4 linked regions of the Homo sapiens genome follow. The protein of the gene in region 1 purifies or fractionates together with the protein of each later gene. This does not show direct contact. Each region holds a gene or a part of one and is shown in the gene's direction. Other genes may lie near its edges.

Region 1 (5,200 bases):
GTGCCAGTGTAAGTGGTGTGTGATATGAAAAATGCTATCCAGTGCTATGGGGAAGTTCTGAGGGCCTTTAGAAGCTCTTGAAGTTTAAATCAGAAATTCACATTAAAGAGATTACAGGAAATCCTTTTCATTTGATTGTTTAAGGCAATTTCCTTTACCATTTCTTTAGGCCAGCCTGAGATCTTCTACAAGACCTTGAAACCTTATATATATTATGGATTTCCTCTGATGTTTCCATATTGCTCTGGGCATTTTCCTGAATCCTTTATATTAGCTCTAGACTTTGGGAGCCCAGTCCCTTCCTATTTTCCAAATCTAAATCTACAGCCCTAGATGGTACAGAGATCTTTGAGTTTTTAAGATATGATTTTTTGAAAAACATCTCATTAAATACTGGCAGAACCTTTTCATCTTGTTGAGTTTTTTAATGTACTGTAACCAAAAAAGTAGAATATTTTATCAAACTGTTTAATCTTCAATTGAAATAATTCTAGTACATTTTAATGTTCGCATTAAAATATTGTCCTTGCATTGGACGTAGATATCCCAAAAGTGGAATACTTCAGATTGTCGTAGTTTCATCTCTGAATAATTGTGATTCCAGTACTTTATAACAAAAATAGCTAGCATTATTGATTACTTTCTGTGTATCTGGTACTGTGGCAGATACTTTACTTGGATTTTAATACTTAATTTCACAGTAATTTAGTAATATGGCCCTGTTATCCTCATTTAGTGATTAGTAAACTAGGGCTGAAAACAGCTAACTAACTTGCCCGAGACTACATACCTAGTAAGTGGTGGAACGTAGGTTAAAATTCATTTTTCTTTGACTTCAAAGTCTGTGGTCTTACCTACTTACATTACTGCCCTTACGACTATGTGGGTATATATTTGTGTGTGTTCAAAACAAACTCAAAACCATCCTGTAGCGTAGCAAGTTAGTGGCTAAGATGAAGCTAGAGCATTTGCCTCCTCAATTCAATTCCATTACTTTCTGTTGTACCTTTATATTTTTTGGTAAGACTTTTACTTATTCTAAGTTCAAAAAATGTAATTTATTAGATGTTTGAGAAATTAAGTTTACCTAAATTTTAATGTTCATACTGTAGTGATTAGTTAATGTTTAATACGTTGTTATTCTGTCACCTTAGTGTATATATAAATGGCAAGAATTCACGGTTAGTTGAAAGCATTAAGGTCCCATAGTTTTGTGTAGACAAGAGGGGAGAGCGTTGATATTTTTAAATTAAATGCTTCTTAGATACGTATGAAATGGATTAAAACATGTATATGAGTTATAGATACCTAGGTGTTAGTTTGGTTGTAAATTCAGGATCAGGACATTCAAATAAATATGTTTGCTTTCCTCTTAGTGGAGGAAAAAAAAAAGAAGCTAAATTTGCTCCCTTTCCTCCCCAAATAAGCAGAGTCTACATTTTAATGCCAACAATTTGATTAAAACAAATATTTATTTACTTTTAATTCACCAAACTTTTATAAAGTATTTACTGGTGCCAGGCACTGTTCTAAAGCACTCTGTATATATTTACTCAGTCCTTAAGAGCTAAGTAATATTATCACGTTTCCATTTTAGAGAAAACTGAGGCACATATAGGTTAGGTTATCTACCCATAGCCATACAGCTAGTAAGTAGCAGAGCCATGATTTCAACACAGCAGCCTGACTATGGAGTTCATGATCTTAACCATTTACAGCTTAATTTTTATTATTTATAATTTCTCTTCTGGAAATGTAACAATTGACCATTTGAAGAAATACTTTAGGTAGCTTTGGATATTTGCTGTATTAAAGTAGTGAAAGTAATACAGACACTTGGCTGGGCGCGGTGGCTCACGCCTATAATCCCAGCATTTTGGTAGGTTGAGGCAGGCAGATCACCTAAGGTCAGGAATTCGAGACCAGTGTTGCCAACATGGTGAAACCCCGTCTCTACTAAAAATACAAAAATTAGCCGGGCGTGGTGGCAGGCGCCTGTAATCCCAGCTACTCGGGAGGCTGAGGCAGGAGAATCACTTGAACCCAGGAGGTGGAGGTTGCAGTGAGCTGAGACGACGCCATTGCACTCCAGCCTGAGAAACAAGAGAGAAACTCTGTCTCAAAAAAAATAAAGGAATACAGACTCTTAGAAAAATAATTACAAATAAAACCCTAGTGAAATTATAGGTATAGTTAGGTATAGTTGGCTTACAGGTGGGAAGTAGACCATTACCAACTGATAGACTGGGGAGCTGGAGAGAGGACACGGAAGAGTGTCCTTGGATTTTTCTTTTCCTTTAATTTTTTTGTAGAGGTGTTGGTTGGTGAGACTGTAACTTGAGGAGCTGTTGTGTGTGCTTTCAGAATGAGGCTCTCTAGATTGATAGTATTTTAGCAGTATTTCAGAATGCATAGGGTAGTGAAAATATAGGGAATCTTACAAGGTCTTCGGTTCCCTGCATATCTTGCTACGATTTGGAATAGAGTATTTATGGTGGAGCAGTTAGCTCTAAAATTTGAAGAAATGATATCCTATTTAAAAATAGCTCCCCATCCCAGTTACTGCCCTCCCCTCTTACCTACACAAACATACGTCTTGAAAATTGTCTATATTCATTGCCTCCTCCTCTTTACACCCTATTCACATTAGTATATCTGGCAAAAATTTTTTTTAACTGAATGGTAAATGCATGACTGACCTTTCAATTAAAGCCAGGAGAAAGAAACAAATCTTAATAGAAGAAATGAATAGTTACCCTTTGCTTAGGGAGCAAGGAAACATGCAAGTTAAATTCAGAAAATCCATTTGGAAAATTCAAGTAACATGAAGAATTTTTATTTGGTATGTTTGAATTTCTATGAAATTATGAAATAAGCCATATCCTCTTTCTAGGTGCTATCAGCTGCCTCAGCTGCAGGGGTTTCTGTAGCTTTTGGTGCACCAATTGGAGGAGTTCTTTTTAGCCTGGAAGAGGTAGGTGAAAAGAATACAACAATTAAAATTATATATAATTACCATTACAAATATATTTCACACATTTCAGTTTTGTAGGTGATGTAATAGGTAGAGACTTTGTTTTCAAATTTATTTTTCTAAAGTTGTTTTCCACTCATTCTTAATAAAAAGTAAATGTTATTCATGCTCCATACCTGGAGGAAACTTTTTAAAAATTTATTAATGTATGAATGTTAGTAATTATTTAAAATCTAACTTTGTTGACATATTTAAAAGTAAGAAGATGTGAATTTGACTTAATAGAGGACATGTGAAACAATCTATTTCCATTGGCTAAATTCTGTATTTTTAGTAGAGATGGAATTTCACCATGTTGGCCAGGCTGTTTTTTTGTGGGGTTTTTTTGTTTTGTTTTGTTTTGTTTTTGTTTTTGAGACGGAGTTTCACTCTTGTTGCCCAGGCTGGAGTGCAATGGCGCGATCTTGGCTCACTGCAACCTCCGCCTCCAGGGTTCAAGTGATTCTCCTGCCTCAGCCTCCCAAGTAGTTTTTGTTTAAAAAATTTTAATCAATTCCTATGTTGTGTTTTAAAGTTTTTCCCATGTGATTATTTCTGATACAGTTAGTGATGTTAAAGAAAATAATTTTAGTGACTTCAGTGGATTATTTTGTTTTTGTTTTCTTAATAGGTGTTTAAGACTTTTCTTTTTACATAAAAATGTAACCAGGAATTTTTTTTTAATTTTTTTTGACAAATAATAATTGTTTTTGTTTATGGGGTATAATGTGATGTGTCTATACATGTATACATTGCGGAATAATCAAATCAGAGTGATTAGCAAATCCCTCAAATATTTATTATGTCCTTGTGGTGGTGAGAACATTTAAAATCCTCTTTTAGCTATTTTGAAATATATAATACATATTATTAACTGTGGTCATCTTACTGTGCAATAGAACACCAGAACTTATTCCTCCTCTGTAAGTTCATACCCGTTGACTAATGTCTCCCCTTTCCCTGTTCACCTCCCCAACCCCTAGCCTCTGGTAACCCCTATTCTACTCTCTACTTCTATGAATTTAACTCTTTTAGTTCAAGATGTTTTTAAATGTACTTTTTTCTTTTAGTTGTTTGTATTCTTTTTTTTTTTTTAATGTAGAAGAGGCAAATTAAATGCATTATAAGTTAACAGGAGTTGGTGATGGTACATTTATTTTTAACTACCATGATTGAATTGAATGTGAAACTCATTTTGAATATAAAACAGCACTAGGTATTCTATTAGTATTTATTAGACATTTATGATCAATTGATACTGTCAATTTGTAATGATGATCACCATCTCCAAAAATAATAATAACATCAATTTTTCTTATTACAGTAAAATCCATTACATGTAAATTCTAACTACAGCAAAATTTAGAGCTAGGATATTTACCATTCAAGTTATAATATATCAGAAACATCTTATAAAATTATAGCATTAATTTTTCTTTTCCTTTTCTTTTTTTTAGGTTAGCTATTATTTTCCTCTCAAAACTTTATGGAGATCATTTTTTGCTGCTTTAGTGGCTGCATTTGTTTTGAGGTCCATCAATCCATTTGGTAACAGCCGTCTGGTCCTTTTTTATGTGGAGTATCATACACCATGGTACCTTTTTGAACTGTTTCCTTTTATTCTTCTAGGGGTATTTGGAGGGCTTTGGGGAGCCTTTTTCATTAGGGCAAATATTGCCTGGTGTCGTCGACGCAAGTCCACGAAATTTGGAAAGTATCCCGTTCTGGAAGTCATTATTGTTGCAGCCATTACTGCTGTGATAGCCTTCCCTAATCCATACACTAGGCTAAACACCAGTGAACTGATCAAAGAGCTTTTTACAGACTGTGGTCCCCTGGAATCCTCTTCTCTTTGTGACTACAGAAATGACATGAATGCCAGTAAAATTGTCGATGACATTCCTGATCGTCCAGCAGGCATTGGAGTATATTCAGCTATATGGCAGTTATGCCTGGCACTCATATTTAAAATCATAATGACAGTATTCACTTTTGGCATCAAGGTAAGTGCTAATGTGAGGTGATATTTGGGTAATTTTGGCATGTTCAAAACTTATATGTGGAATGAGAGAGGTTGTTGTTTCATAAATGACTGAAAAAAGTACTTATCTTTTGAGTTTAATTTTAAGTAATGAAAAAGATAATTCCTTAGCATATATTGTTGACCATGTTATCTGTTGCTATTTA
Region 2 (4,231 bases), on another chromosome or scaffold:
CAGCATCCTCCTGGGCACCTCGACGCTGCTGGTGTGGGTGGGCGTGATCCGCTACCTGACCTTCTTCCACAACTACAATGTGAGTTTTGCACATGCAGCTGGGCCTTCCACATGGTTACTCCACACCCTCCAAATAAATCCCTACACACGCAGCCCTCACCAGCCCCGGCCAATGGCCCCTTGCAAGCCTCCTCCTCCTACCTGCCCACACCAGATATATCTGTCACTGCACCTGCGCGGGGCCCCGGGAGCCTGCTCCTTTGTGCCCACCCAGCTGAGTCTAGCCGTGCGTTGCCCTCGGACCCCCTCAGACGTGGCCACGCCCCCTCTAGGCACCCACTGGCTCCCATGACCACACCGGCTGTGCCCTCGGCAAGGCCCCGCCCCTCCCACCCCCATCTGGGTGCCCACAGCTGACCTGAGTTGTGGCCACACCCTCAACGAGGCTCCCTCTGCCCCAACCCAGATCCTCATCGCCACACTGCGGGTGGCCCTGCCCAGCGTCATGCGCTTCTGCTGCTGCGTGGCTGTCATCTACCTGGGCTACTGCTTCTGTGGCTGGATCGTGCTGGGGCCCTATCATGTGAAGGTACATCTAACCCCTGATGTCCCTGACATTGACCCTGTGACCTTGTCATTGACACTGTGACCCCCAGATGACCCCTTGGTGACTGCTGGGAGTCTGTCCACTGTCCCCTGTGGTCCTTGGTGACCCTGACACTGACCCTGTGCCATTATTGTTGTCACAGTTGTTGATGACCCTATTTCGACCTGAATTACTCCCCTCCTGCTCTATCTACCCAGACCCTAGGTCGGCCCTGTGGCCCTGTCATTGACCCGTGGTCCCGGCCATTCACATGGGACCCCAGCCTGGGACCTGGCCATTCACATAGTGACCCCAGCCTGGGACCCGGCCATTCACGTGGGACCCCAGCCTGGGTCCCGGCCATTCACGTGGGACCCCAGCCTGGGACCCGGCCATTCACAGGGGCCCTAGCCTGGAACCCGACCATTCACATGGTGACCGCAGCCCGGGACCCGGCCATTCATGTGGGGCCCCAGCCACCAGCTCCTAGCCATTTGCATGGGACCCCAGCCTGACCCCAGCCCCCGGTTCCTGGCCATGCCTTGGCTCCCTCTGACCCCGCCGCCCCTCTGGCAGTTCCGCTCACTCTCCATGGTGTCTGAGTGCCTGTTCTCGCTCATCAATGGGGACGACATGTTTGTGACGTTCGCCGCCATGCAGGCGCAGCAGGGCCGCAGCAGCCTGGTGTGGCTCTTCTCCCAGCTCTACCTTTACTCCTTCATCAGCCTCTTCATCTACATGGTGCTCAGCCTCTTCATCGCGCTCATCACCGGCGCCTACGACACCATCAAGGTCAGCCGCATGCACCCAGCCCTGAGCTCGGGCTCTGGGTGCCCTGGAGTCTGCCATGAGGGGGTCTTGGGGACACCGCAGGGTGAACAGAGAAGACCCAGGAGAGAATATGGGAGACTCTATGAAACCAAAAAGAGGGTGGTTCAGAACTGGGGGGCGCAGGGGGATGTCAAGGTGGGCTTGGGCCAGGAGGGGGCCTGAGTCAGTCTTTGCCAACAGGGCAACCGAGTCATAGAGTTTATTTATTTATTTGTTTATTTGAGACGGAGTCTTGCTCTGTCACCCAGGGTGGAGTGCAGTGGTGCGATCTTGACTCACTGCAACCTCCACCTCCCGGGTTCAAGCAATTCTGTCTCAGCCTCCTGAGTAGCTGGGACTACAGGCACACGCCACCACGTCCAGCTAATTTTTGTATTTTTAGTAGAGATGGCATTTCACCGCATTGGTCAGGCTGGTCTCAAACTCCTGGCCTCAGGAGATCTACTGCCTTGGCCTCCCAAAGTGTTGGGATTACAGGCGTGAGCCACCACGCCCGGCCTATTTTATTTTATTATTAAAGTATTGTTCTTTATTTTATTAGAGACAAGGGTCTCACTGTGTTACCCAGGCTGGTTTCAAACTCCTGAGGTCAAGTGATCCTCCCACTTTGGCCTCCCAAAGTGCTGGGATTACAGGCGTAAGCCACCACACCCAGCCTATTATTATTATTTTTTTTTTGAAATGGAATCTTACCCTGTGGCCCAGGCTGGAGTGCAATGGCATGATCTCGGCTCACTGCAACCTCCACCTTCTGAGTTGAAGCGATCCTTGTGCCTCAGCCTCCTGAGTAGCTGGGATTACTTGCACGTGCCACCACACCTGGCTAATTTTTGTATTTTTACTAGAGATGGGGTTTCACCACGTTGGCCAGGCTGGTCTCGAACTCCTGACCTCAGGTGATCCACCTGCCTTGGCCTCCCAAGGTGCTGGGATTTCAGGCATGAGCCACTGAACCCAGCTAAGTCATACAGTTTCAATGACCTTGTCATTGACCCTGGGACGTTGCCATTAACATGGTGATCCTCAGCTGGCCCCATTCCTATGGCGGACCTCTAAAAACCCAACCCTGACCCCAGCCCCCAGCCATGCCCCCGACTCCCTCTGACCCTGCCCAAGGTTAGCTTCTTTATTTATTTATTTTTTTTGAGACGGAGTCTCGCTGTGTCACCCAGGCTGGAGTGCAGTGGTGCAATCTCGGCTCACTGCAACCTCTGCCTCCCGGGTTCAAGCGATTCTCCTGCCTCAGCCTACTGAGTAGCTGGGATTATAGGCACACGCCACCATGCCTGGCTAATTTTTGTATTTTTAGTAGAGATGGGGTTTCACCATGTTGACCAGGCTGGTCTCAAACTCCTGACCTTGTGATCCGCCCACCTCAGGCTCCCAAAGTGCTGGGATTACGGGCGTGAGCCACTGTGCCCGGCCCAGGTTAGCTTCTGAGCAGTAAAACTGGGCTCAACCCAGGGCTGTCTGATTCCAGAAGCCGTGCTCCTAACCCCTCTGTCCTCAGTTTAGTAGGGTGGCTGGGAACAGTGGTTTCCCTGCAAGCTGCAAGGGTCAGGGGACAGAGCAGGATGCGGAAGTGGCAGGTAGATAGGATTCTTTCAGCAGATATATCTAAGGGCCAAGATCTGTGCTGGGTTCTGGGCATGGAGGAAAATCAGGTGTGCATGATCCGTCCAAGGCCTGTGGGCAAGGATGGCACAGGAACAGACATCCCATGACCAATGACCTACTTGTAACAGGTATGAAGGAAGAGTGGAAGGTTGCAGAGGGACCCCTGCTTTAGATTGGTATGACAGGAGATCCAGGAGAGCTTCTAGAATGTTCTATCCATCACTAGTCTCTAGCCCTATGCAGCTATTTAAATTTTGATTTTAATTCCGGCTGGGCACGGTGACTCACGCCTGTAATCCCAGCCCTTTGGGAGGCCGAGGGGGGGTGGGGGTGGATCACCTGAGGTTAGGAGTTCGAGACCAGCCTGGCCAACATGGCAAAACCCCATCTCTACTAAAAATACAAAAAATTAGCGGACGTGGTGGCAGGCACCTGTAATCCCAGCTACTCCGGAGGCTGAGGCAGTAGAATTGCTTGAACCTGGGACGTAGAGGTTGCAGTGAGCCGAGATCAAGCCACTGCACTCCAACGTGGGCGAGAGACCGAGACTCTGCTTCAAAGACAAAACAACAATTTTTTAAAAATTTTAATTCAAATGAAGTACAATTGCAAATTTAGCCTCTGACTTGCACCATCCTGTATCCAGTGCTCAAAAGCCAGTGTGGCTGGTGGCTGCCATATTGGACAGCATAGATATTGAATACTTCCATCGCCTCTAGACTGAAGAGATGGGAGCCCAGGGGCAGTGCACCGAGGGGAAGGAATAGCTAAAGCAAAGGTCTAGTAGCCTGAAAAAACTTGGAGAAAAGATGGCCCCTCCATGAGGCCGAGTGAGAGGAAGGAAGCCTTGGCTGGGACCCTGCCACATCCAATGTCACCGGCAGATGGGTACACCCCCTTTTCCCCATGCATGGATTCAGCTGTCCCACAGACACATTGACTCAGGCCCTTGGAACTACTTCCTGTCTTGCCTTAGCACGTAGACATCACACACATGCATCCACTCAGGTGGGCAGTCTCAGGCCCTGCTCCCACTGCTGTGCTCAGCGTGCATCCAGCTCACTCAATAGATGGTTTCTGAGCATCGAGGTCATGTCAGCCCTGGCTCTAGGTCTGTAGGTGCTGGACCTACAGCAGAAGGCAAAGACACAGACTGGCAAAGACACAGCTTGTATCCAGGTTCAGGGGTCAGGGAAG
Region 3 (4,900 bases), on another chromosome or scaffold:
ATGTAATTTCAGGATAAAAAATTGAAGGTGTAATTTGCAAGCAACTACTCTCAATTCTGCCATGGTAGAGTGAAAGCAGCTATAGGCAATACTAAAGGAATGGGCATGGTTGTGTTCCACTAAAATTTTAGGACACTGAAACTTGAATTTGAATTTCGTCTAATTTTCACATCTCAAAATATTGTTCTTTTGATTTTCGTTAAGCAAGTTGCAACCAGAATGGACTGCAAAGCCTATAACATTTATTGTCTGGCTCTTTTTATTTTATTTTTATTTTTTGAGACAGTGTCTCGCTCTGTCGCCCAGGCTGGAGTACAGTGGCGCCATCGGAGCTCACTGCAACCTTCACTCCCAGGTTCAAGCGATTCTCCCACCTTAGCTTCTAAGTAGCTGGAACTACAGGCGTGCACCACCACGCCAAGCTAATTAAAATTTCTTTTGCAGAGACAGGGTCTCATTCTGTTGCCCAGGCTGATCTCCTGGGTTCAAGGGATTCGCCCGCCTAGACCTCCCAAAATTCTGGAATTACAGGCGATAGCCACTGCGCCTCGTCTCTGGCTCTTCACAGGCAATTTGTGGATCCTTGTTACAAATGAAACAAGATGGGACATTAGTTGATCATTTTTGAAGTTGGGTGACGGTATACAGGGTTTCGTTATACTAGTTTACTTTAGAATATACTTGAAATCTTTCACAATAAAAAGTTGTGGAAATGTTTAACAAAGGTGAGTTATCTTACGCGTTTTTCTTTCCTTATACAAAAACCAAATCTCTCTGAAAGTTGTCTATAGTTAGTAAAGCCTTTTGCTTCTTTTCTGAAAAAGAAAAACCCTTTCGAAGTCTTTAGTGGTGGTAAAATAAGCCCTTTGGATATGACACTCGGTGACGACGAAAGCAGGCACAAAAGGAAAAGAGGAGTTTTTGGGGGGTGTCTGTGTGTGTTTTGTCTTTTTACATTACTCTAAATTCCCAGAACCAATCCCGGTTCTACAAATAAGTGAAACAAAATCCCCTTTAACACCGTAGGGTCTCACGCCCTCAGATGACTCACGGAAATGACGCCATCAGCGAAAAGCGGGGCGGGCGTAGACGTCAGCACGTCAGCCCTCCTCCATGTCCAGCTGAGGGAAGGCTCGTTTCAGTGCCGCGGCCGGCGCCCGCCAAGGGATGGGCAGCCAGAGCCTGTCGACTGCGGCTGCGCAGGTATGCTGGGGCGGGGCTTCAGGTCACCCCGCCCATCCCCAGCCTACGCGACCATTGAACAGCTGCCGCCCAACGGCTGGGTAAATCCTCAGCGGCCGAAATGATTAGCCCAGGGGGCAGCCCCGCCCCCTGCTCCTCCCGGCCTCTCGCCCCGCCCCCATGTCCCGCCCGCTCGTCTGCCTGGCTGCGGGGTGACACGGGGCTTCGCCTTGGGAAGGGGTCGAGGGAAGCAGTTAGACGGCTGCCGGGCGGCGGCTGCCGCGCGGCACACAATGTGAGCCCGGTGATGGGGAGCGGGCCGTTGGGAAGAGGGGGCGGCATGGCAAGAAATGGGAGGGCCCCGGTGCTTGGTGGTGGAGGGGCTGCAGAGTGAGGGGCGGCTTTGAGTGGGCTAGGCTGTCAGGGAGTGTTCCGATACTGTAGTGCAGGCTGGGATCGCGGTCGGGAGACGCCGAGTCCGCATTCCTCAGTTCTAGAGCTTCTCTTGGCAGCTCGGCACACCTTAAGTTTGCCTCTGTTTGGGTTGTCTTGGGATGTGAGGAGGAAATTAAAAGATTCCCCCAAACACTTGGATGCTTCTTTGGGAAGTTCCTCGCCGGTGTGTGCGTGCCCACTTCTCTTGGATGGAAAGGTGGAGAGGCCAGGTGGGCGGGTGGACTTCCACTCTCCGAGGATTGTTAGAACAAACGAACTGGGAATTCCTCCCCCGCCCCCACGCCCTGCCCTGCAACACAGCAAACAGTCCCAACTACTCCACCCCCACCCCACCCCAGACGGAGTCTTGCTCTGTCGCCCAGACTGGAGTGCAGTGGCGTGATCTGGGCTCACTGCAGCCTCTGCCTCCCGGGTTCAAGCAATTCTCCTGCCTCAGCCTCCTGAGTAGCTGGGATTACAGGTGCCCGCCACCACGCCCGGCTAATTTTTTGTATTTCTTTAGTAGAGACAGGGGTTCACTGTGTTGGCCAGGCTGGTCTCGAACTCCTGACCTCAGGTGATTCACGCACTTGGGCCTCCCAAAGTGCTGGGATTACAGGCGTGAGCCACCGCGCCTGGCCCCAACAACTTTGAAGAGGAGACCAGAACAAGAACATTCTAAGAGCTTTGATGTATTTGAAATGTCTGAGATGTGGGCCTTTTCCTTGTATCTGTACAAAAGGTATGAGTGGGAAGGGAGTCTTGCTCCTTATTCTCACTGGACGCATTCTTGGTTATGAACATGTACCCATCTCTAGGAGTCTGTCTGCCCTAGAGGATTCTATGGTGGACATACTGTGTTAGCTGTGATGTTTTCCTGAAACACAAGTTTCTATGAAATCTAATCAGTCCATGTGAAAGTATAGCGGGTTGTTTGTGGGAAGTGAAGAAGATACATCTTTAGTTTTTGATAAGTCTAGATTTTTTAGTATGGCCTCTTTTTCTAACCTGTGGATGTTTTTCTCTTTCACAGATTTATTTAATTGCCCAACTACCACTGATGAAGATATATTGGAGTGACTGCTGAAATTGCCTTTTTGTTTTTAACCAGAGGACAGTCCATTTGTTTCACTTCTTTTTGCTTTCTTTACTGCTATGAGCTTTACTGAACGGCTGAAAAACTTGGAAAATAAAATGGACATGCTGTAGTCTTGAACATAATTTTTTTAAGGAAAACTTAAAGTGCCAGAGTGAAAGCCAGAATGGCATCCAGAGAGAGGCTCTTTGAACTTTGGATGCTTTATTGTACAAAGGTAATTGCTTTCCTTTTTATTTTTATGTTTTAAAATACTTTATTATAAAATTTGTGACTGGCAGTAGTAACACTTTATTTAATAGATAATAGTGTATTTAGTCATAATGAATAACCCCAAACTTAAAAGCGTTTAAAGGATTTTCTGTTTTCCTCTTTTTCAGGTTTGAACACACATACAATATTGGCATACTGTTAAAAACTGTAGGGTGCGGCTTTTATTTGATACTTATCCCCAAATGATCCTAAAATTATATAAGTAAAATTATGCCCTTAAGAGAAAAATAAAATATTTTTATTTTTGTTTGTGCTTTTCATTTTCTCCCACAAGTGAGTGTAGGATAGAGACATTTTTATGAGAAGGGCATTAAGCATTTTTCTTGGAATGAACCTTTGAAATTGCATCACAAGGTTATTGATTGAACTGCGTGCTGTGTGACTGCCACTAAGTTAGCACTCTTTGAGCATTGTCTCATTTCCTTCTCACTACAATACTGTGAGGTGAATATTGTGATCATCCCCTTTTACTGATGGGAAAACTGATGCAAGGGTTACAGGAGTACTGAGTAGCCGAGAAACACAGTACTACCTGACTCAAGTGCGTACTTTTATCCATTTTTACTCCTTAATATTTTTGTCACTCAGAAATAATGTTCTTTCCCCTCCTTGTCTTTATGTGAATTTTTACTTGATAGCTTTGATTTTAGGTTATTGAGAAGAGTACTCCTTAAAAACATGTTTTTCAAGTGAGGAGGTACATTATTACTTTGAAGATACTGGCAAGGGTCAGAGAAACACCCCTAATGTACTATTTGAGTTAATTTAAGTATGTGTGGTGAAATTCTCAAGTCACAGCTTCTGTTTCTGCATTATCCTTTCATGCTCCTTAAAAGGCAGATTATTATTTAACAGTGGTCTCATTTATCTGTCATATTAAATTTAGAGATTACACTGGAATTTTCTTTGACTTCCTGGTTTGATATATATTATAATTGCTAAAGGACATACACTTTGAAATGCTTAATATGAATTTTTAAAATAGCTTTTAGTCTTGCATAATTTAATACCAGAAATGTCTTTTTAAAAATAGACGCTTCCAATAAAAAAGGAATCCAATTCACCACTTTTGAAAATAGTCACTAACACGTTAACCAAAAATTAAAATTAATTTTTAGTATGAATACCTAGTAGTTTGAAAATGATTTATTTAAAAATACATCAAACTTACTAGGTTTTACTGTTTTCAAAATGATATTGGTGAATGGGGTTACGTGTCTCATTAATAAGTTACATTCTTTTTAGGTATATTTACTATTAAATTTAATATTAAAGCTTATTAAACAGATAGTATAGTTCATTGGCATACACTGAATTTTATTCTTAATGGCTTTTAATATAAACATGCATCCCTTCTCCTTTGAAATGTTAATCCTCAATAATGAAGGCCCCTCACTGTCAGATTTTGAAGCCTATCTCTTCTTGGACAGGAATATAAATCTCATTTTTAGGTTTAATATTTAAATAATTTGTGTGCTTAATACGATTTAAAATTTTTTCACTTGTTTTCAAAGAATATTTATTTAAAACCGTGATTTTATATTTTACCAGTTAACGGATAAGCTTTTTGTAAGGTAGACAACATTCTCTTCTGCAGACACCTTGAATCAGGTAGCTACCAAATATACCTCATAGATTTAAGTCTTCTTTCTAATGAGGATGACTACCAAATACTGTACCCAGTTGTTCTCTATACTTTTTGCCTTATTATTCTCACTCTAGCATTTAGCCTCTCAAACCAGCTGACTTTTTTTTTTTCCCAGCTGACAAACTTTTAAGGCTTTTTTTTTTCACACTTTTAATGAGCTTTCAGACCACTTGAGGACTCAGATCTTCTTATGAAAATATTTTCTACCACTTAGTTTCAAAAGCTTCTTAGACCTCTTTGTGAGCTTGAAATCGTAGTTTAGTTTT
Region 4 (4,231 bases), on another chromosome or scaffold:
TAGTCAATGCAATAAGGCAAAGAAAGGAAGAGAGGGAGGGAGGGAGGCAAGGAAAAAAGGAAGAAAGAAAGAAAGTGTGGCATAGTACACAATGAAATACCATTTGACCATAAAAAAGAAAGAAGTCATGTCATTTGTAGCCACATGGAGGTTGCTATATTAAGGTAAATAAGATAGGCACAGGAAGACAAATACCACATGTTCTTGCTCACATGTGAATGCTAAAGAACATTGATATCGTAGACATAGAGAATAGAATGATATATACCAGAAACTGAGAAGGGTGGTGGGTGGATGAAGAAAAGTTGGCTAATGGGTACAAACACACAGTTAGATAGAAGAAATAAATTTTAATGTCTTTTTTTTTTCCTTTTTGTGGAGAGAAGTCTCCATACGTTGCCCAGGATTGTCTCAAACTCCTGGGCTCAAGCAACCCTCCCAGTTTAGCTTCCTAAAGTGCTGAGATTACAGGTGTGAGCCACTGCACCTGGCAAGTTCTAATGTTTTATAGCATGATAAGGTGACTATACTTGGGTGACAATATTTAGCATATTTCAAAGTAACTATTAATAGAAGAGAGGACATGAAATGATACTGACACATAGAAAGGACATATATCCAAGGTGATGGATACCCCAGTTACCCTGACTTAATCATTACCCATTCTATGCATGCAACAAACACTCACATGTACGCCATAAATTATGTAAAATATTATATATTAATAAAAGAAAAAAAATTAGGCCGGGCATGGTGGCTCATGCCTTTAATCCCAGTACTTTGGGAGGCTGAGACAGGAGGATTGCTTGAGCCCAGGAGTTCCAGACCAGCTTGGGCAACATAGTGAGACCCCATCTCTACAAAAATAAAATATTAGCCAGGTGTGGTGGCACACGTCTGTGGTCACAGCTACTCGGGGCTGAGGTGAGAGGATTGCTAGGGGGCTGAGGTGAGAGGATTGCTTGGGGCCAGGAGGTGGAGGCTGCAATGAGCCATGATTGTGCCTCTGCACTCCAGCCTGGGTGACAGAGCAAGACCCTGTCTCAAAAAAATATATATGTCAAAAAATGTATATATGTGTATATATATATTTATGTGTATGTATATATGTGTGTGTGTGTATATATATATATGTTTAAGTTAAAGATGGGGGGAAAAAAAGGAAGGGGCATATAGATTGGAAAGGAAGTATTAAAACTTTGTTTCAGGTGACATGATCCTCTATGTAGAAAATTCTAGCCGGGTGTGGTGGCTCACACCTGTAATCCCAGCACTTTAGGAGGCTGAGGCGGGCGGATCACGAAGCCAGGAGATCGAGACCATCCTGCTAACATGGTGAAACCCTGTCTAAAAATACAAAAAAATTATCTGGGCCTGGTGGCGCGTGCCTGTAGTCCCAGCTACTCGGGAGGCTGAGGCAGGAGAATGGCGTGAGCCCAGGAGGTGGAGCTTGCAGTGAGCTGAGATACCGCCCCTGCACTCCAGCCTGGGTGACAGAGCGAGACTCCGTCTCAAAAAAAAAAAAAAAAAAAAAAGAAAAGAAAATTCCAAGAATGCCACAAAAAGGCTACTAGAATTAATAAGTGAGTTTAGCAAGGTTATAGGACACAGTACAAAGTCAAAATACAAAAATATGTTTTTTTTATATACTAGCAAAGTTCCATTGGAAATCTCTTAAAACAACATTTTCTATTATATGTACCTGCCAGTTCTTAACATTTATTATCAGAAGTAACTAATTAAATTATTCTTTGTCATTCTTCTAGGGGAACTTATGACATTTTAGTAACAAAAGATAATCAAACCCGCTCTGTTGGTCAATATGACAACCGTGGCAGTTTTGGAGAACTAGCTCTGATGTACAACACCCCGAGAGCTGCTACCATTGTTGCTACCTCAGAAGGCTCCCTTTGGGGACTGGTGAGTGAGAGAAATCGTTCCCCTTGCAAGGCACAGTATTAATTCCCTTTCTGTGTCTCTGTCCTTGGGCTGTTGATTTACACTATATCTTACAGCCATCCTGGCTAACACGGTGAAACCCCATCTCTACTAAAAAATACAAAAAAAATAGCCAGGTGTGGTGGTGGGCATGTGTAGTCCCAGCTAGTTGGGAGGCTGAGACAGGAGAATGGCGTGAACTCGGGAGGTGGAGCTTGCAGTGAGCCGAGATCGCGCCACTGTACTCCAGCCTGGGCGACACAGCGAGACTCCGTCTCAAAAAAAAAAGCACTTTATTGTGACATCCTGATGTTAAATTAAGAGTGCTCCTGAAAGAGATACAGTGACTTAAGGATAGGTCACACACTTGGGGACTCAATGATTGAAAAACTCAAGAATAGATTTGTATAGGGGAATAATAAATAATGGGGGCCAGGCACGGTGACTCACACCTGTAATCCCAGCACTTGGGGAGGCCAAGGCGGGAAGATCACTTGAGGTCAGGAGTTCGAGACCAGCCTGAGCAACATGGTAAAACCGTGTCTCTACTAAAAATATGAAAATTGGCCAGTCATGGTGATGGGCGCCTGTAGTCCCAGGAGGCGGAGGTTGCAGTGAGCCAAGATCACGCCACTGCACTCTAGCCTGGGCGACTGAGCAAGACTCCATCTCAAAAAATACAAAATCAAATAATAAGCCTTGGTGCTAACTACTGGTTCAGACCAAGATGGAATAGCCCTATTCCATGCTAGTGTTCTCACTTAAAAACTTAAACACACACACAAACAACTATGGACATAATAGAGCAAACATAGGAAGACTCTGAAAGGTGGAAAGAAGAAGGCAGACTATCTAGGGATATTGGGGCTTGAGGAAAGACATGACAGTGAGTTCCCAGGTTCCCATATATCCCAGATGGGGTGCTGGAAAGCCTGAAATCCAGATCTTCTAACAGGTATATTCAACAAAAGCAAAACTCCATCTCAAAAACAAAACAAAACAAAAGAACGAACAGCTAAACAGAAAATCAGCTAGTGTCAGCTAGGATATAGAAGAACTTAACACCATTAATTAACAAAAGCTATCTGAAATTTATAGAACACTGCACACAGCAACAACAGAATGAACATTTTTTTCAAGCCCATGGAACATTCACCCAAATAGGCCATATCCTGGAATATAAAATAAAACTTAAAAAATGTAAAAGATTTGAAATCAGGCCAACCACAGTGGCTCAAGCCTGTTATCCCAGCACTTTGGGAGGTTGAGGTGGGAGGATTGAGTCCAGGAATTTGAGACCTACCTGGGCAGCATAGTGAGACCACATCTCTATTTAAAATTTTAAGAAATAATGAAAATTTAAAGAAAAAATGAAATCAGAATGTGTTCTCTAACTACAATTGAAAGAAAGAAACTAAAAATCAATAACAGATCTCCAGACACTTAGAAATTAAATAACATTGTTTTTGGTGTGAGCAGGGGCTAACTGCAGCCTTGACCTCCTGAGCTCAAGCAATCCTCCCACCTCAGCCTCCCAAGTAGCTGGGACTACAGGTGTGCACCACCACACCTGTCTTTTTGTTGTTGTTGTTGTTGAGACAGAGTCTCACTATGTTGCTCAGGCTGGTCTTGAACTTCTGGGCTCAAGCAGTCCTCCTGCCTTGGCCTCCCAAAGTGCTGGAATTACAGGCATGAGCCACTGTGCCCAGCCAAATAACACATTCTTTCTTTTTTTTCTTTTTTGAGATGATCTTGGCTCACTGCAACCTCTGCCTCCTGGGTTCAAGCGATTCTCCTACCTCGGCCTCCTGAGTAGCTGGGATTACAGACGTGTGCACATGTGCCACCACGCCCAGCCAATTTTTGTATTTTTAGTAGAAATGGAGTTTCACCATGTTGGCCAGGCTGGTCTCGAACTCCTGACCTCAGGTGATCTGCCCACCTCGGCCTCCCAAAGTGCTGGGATTACAGGCAAGAGCCACCGCACCCGGCCAAATAACCCATTCTTGGATAATCTCTAAGACCAAGTCTCAATGAAAATTGAAAACTGTATATTGAGCTGTAAAACCACCTGCTTTGTGGCTGGGGTATGAGGATTAAATACATGGGCATAAGAGAAGTGACTCCCTTAGTGCCTGGTACAAGGTGGGTGTTCACAGAATGATGGCACAAGCTCCCCATGGCCATGGTGCTACTCACCACCCTTCTTTTCCTGAGACTTCCTTTCCTAAGACTCCTATTCTTTCTATTTCCTTGCCTTTGGCAGTCATTTCCTCTTCTCCTTGCTTTCTTA

Evidence for each region. The genes of interacting proteins can lie anywhere in the genome.
Region 2: the proteins of CLCN3 (region 1) and MCOLN1 fractionate together in Homo sapiens (co-fractionation; one large-scale study listed by BioGRID). This does not show direct contact.
Region 3: the proteins of CLCN3 (region 1) and NBEAL1 fractionate together in Homo sapiens (co-fractionation; one large-scale study listed by BioGRID). This does not show direct contact.
Region 4: the proteins of CLCN3 (region 1) and PRKAR2A fractionate together in Homo sapiens (co-fractionation; one large-scale study listed by BioGRID). This does not show direct contact.

What each region holds. Positions count from the first base shown.
Region 1 is NC_000004.12:169,692,719-169,697,918, forward strand, and holds part of CLCN3 (H(+)/Cl(-) exchange transporter 3), read left to right. Parts: intron 1-2,893; coding exon 2,894-2,974; intron 2,975-4,470; coding exon 4,471-5,016; intron 5,017-5,200.
Region 2 is NC_000019.10:7,529,124-7,533,354, forward strand, and holds part of MCOLN1 (mucolipin-1), read left to right. Parts: coding exon 1-79; intron 80-466; coding exon 467-589; intron 590-1,162; coding exon 1,163-1,378; intron 1,379-4,231. UniProt on the Homo sapiens protein: Nonselective cation channel probably playing a role in the regulation of membrane trafficking events and of metal homeostasis. Acts as a Ca(2+)-permeable cation channel with inwardly rectifying activity.
Region 3 is NC_000002.12:203,013,506-203,018,405, forward strand, and holds the start of NBEAL1 (neurobeachin-like protein 1), read left to right. Parts: upstream 1-1,369; 5' UTR 1,370-1,477; intron 1,478-2,212; exon of another isoform or gene 2,213-2,359; intron 2,360-2,650; 5' UTR 2,651-2,879; coding exon 2,880-2,930; intron 2,931-4,900.
Region 4 is NC_000003.12:48,770,644-48,774,874, reverse strand, and holds part of PRKAR2A (cAMP-dependent protein kinase type II-alpha regulatory subunit), read left to right. Parts: intron 1-1,766; coding exon 1,767-1,920; intron 1,921-4,231. UniProt on the Homo sapiens protein: Regulatory subunit of the cAMP-dependent protein kinases involved in cAMP signaling in cells. Type II regulatory chains mediate membrane association by binding to anchoring proteins, including the MAP2 kinase.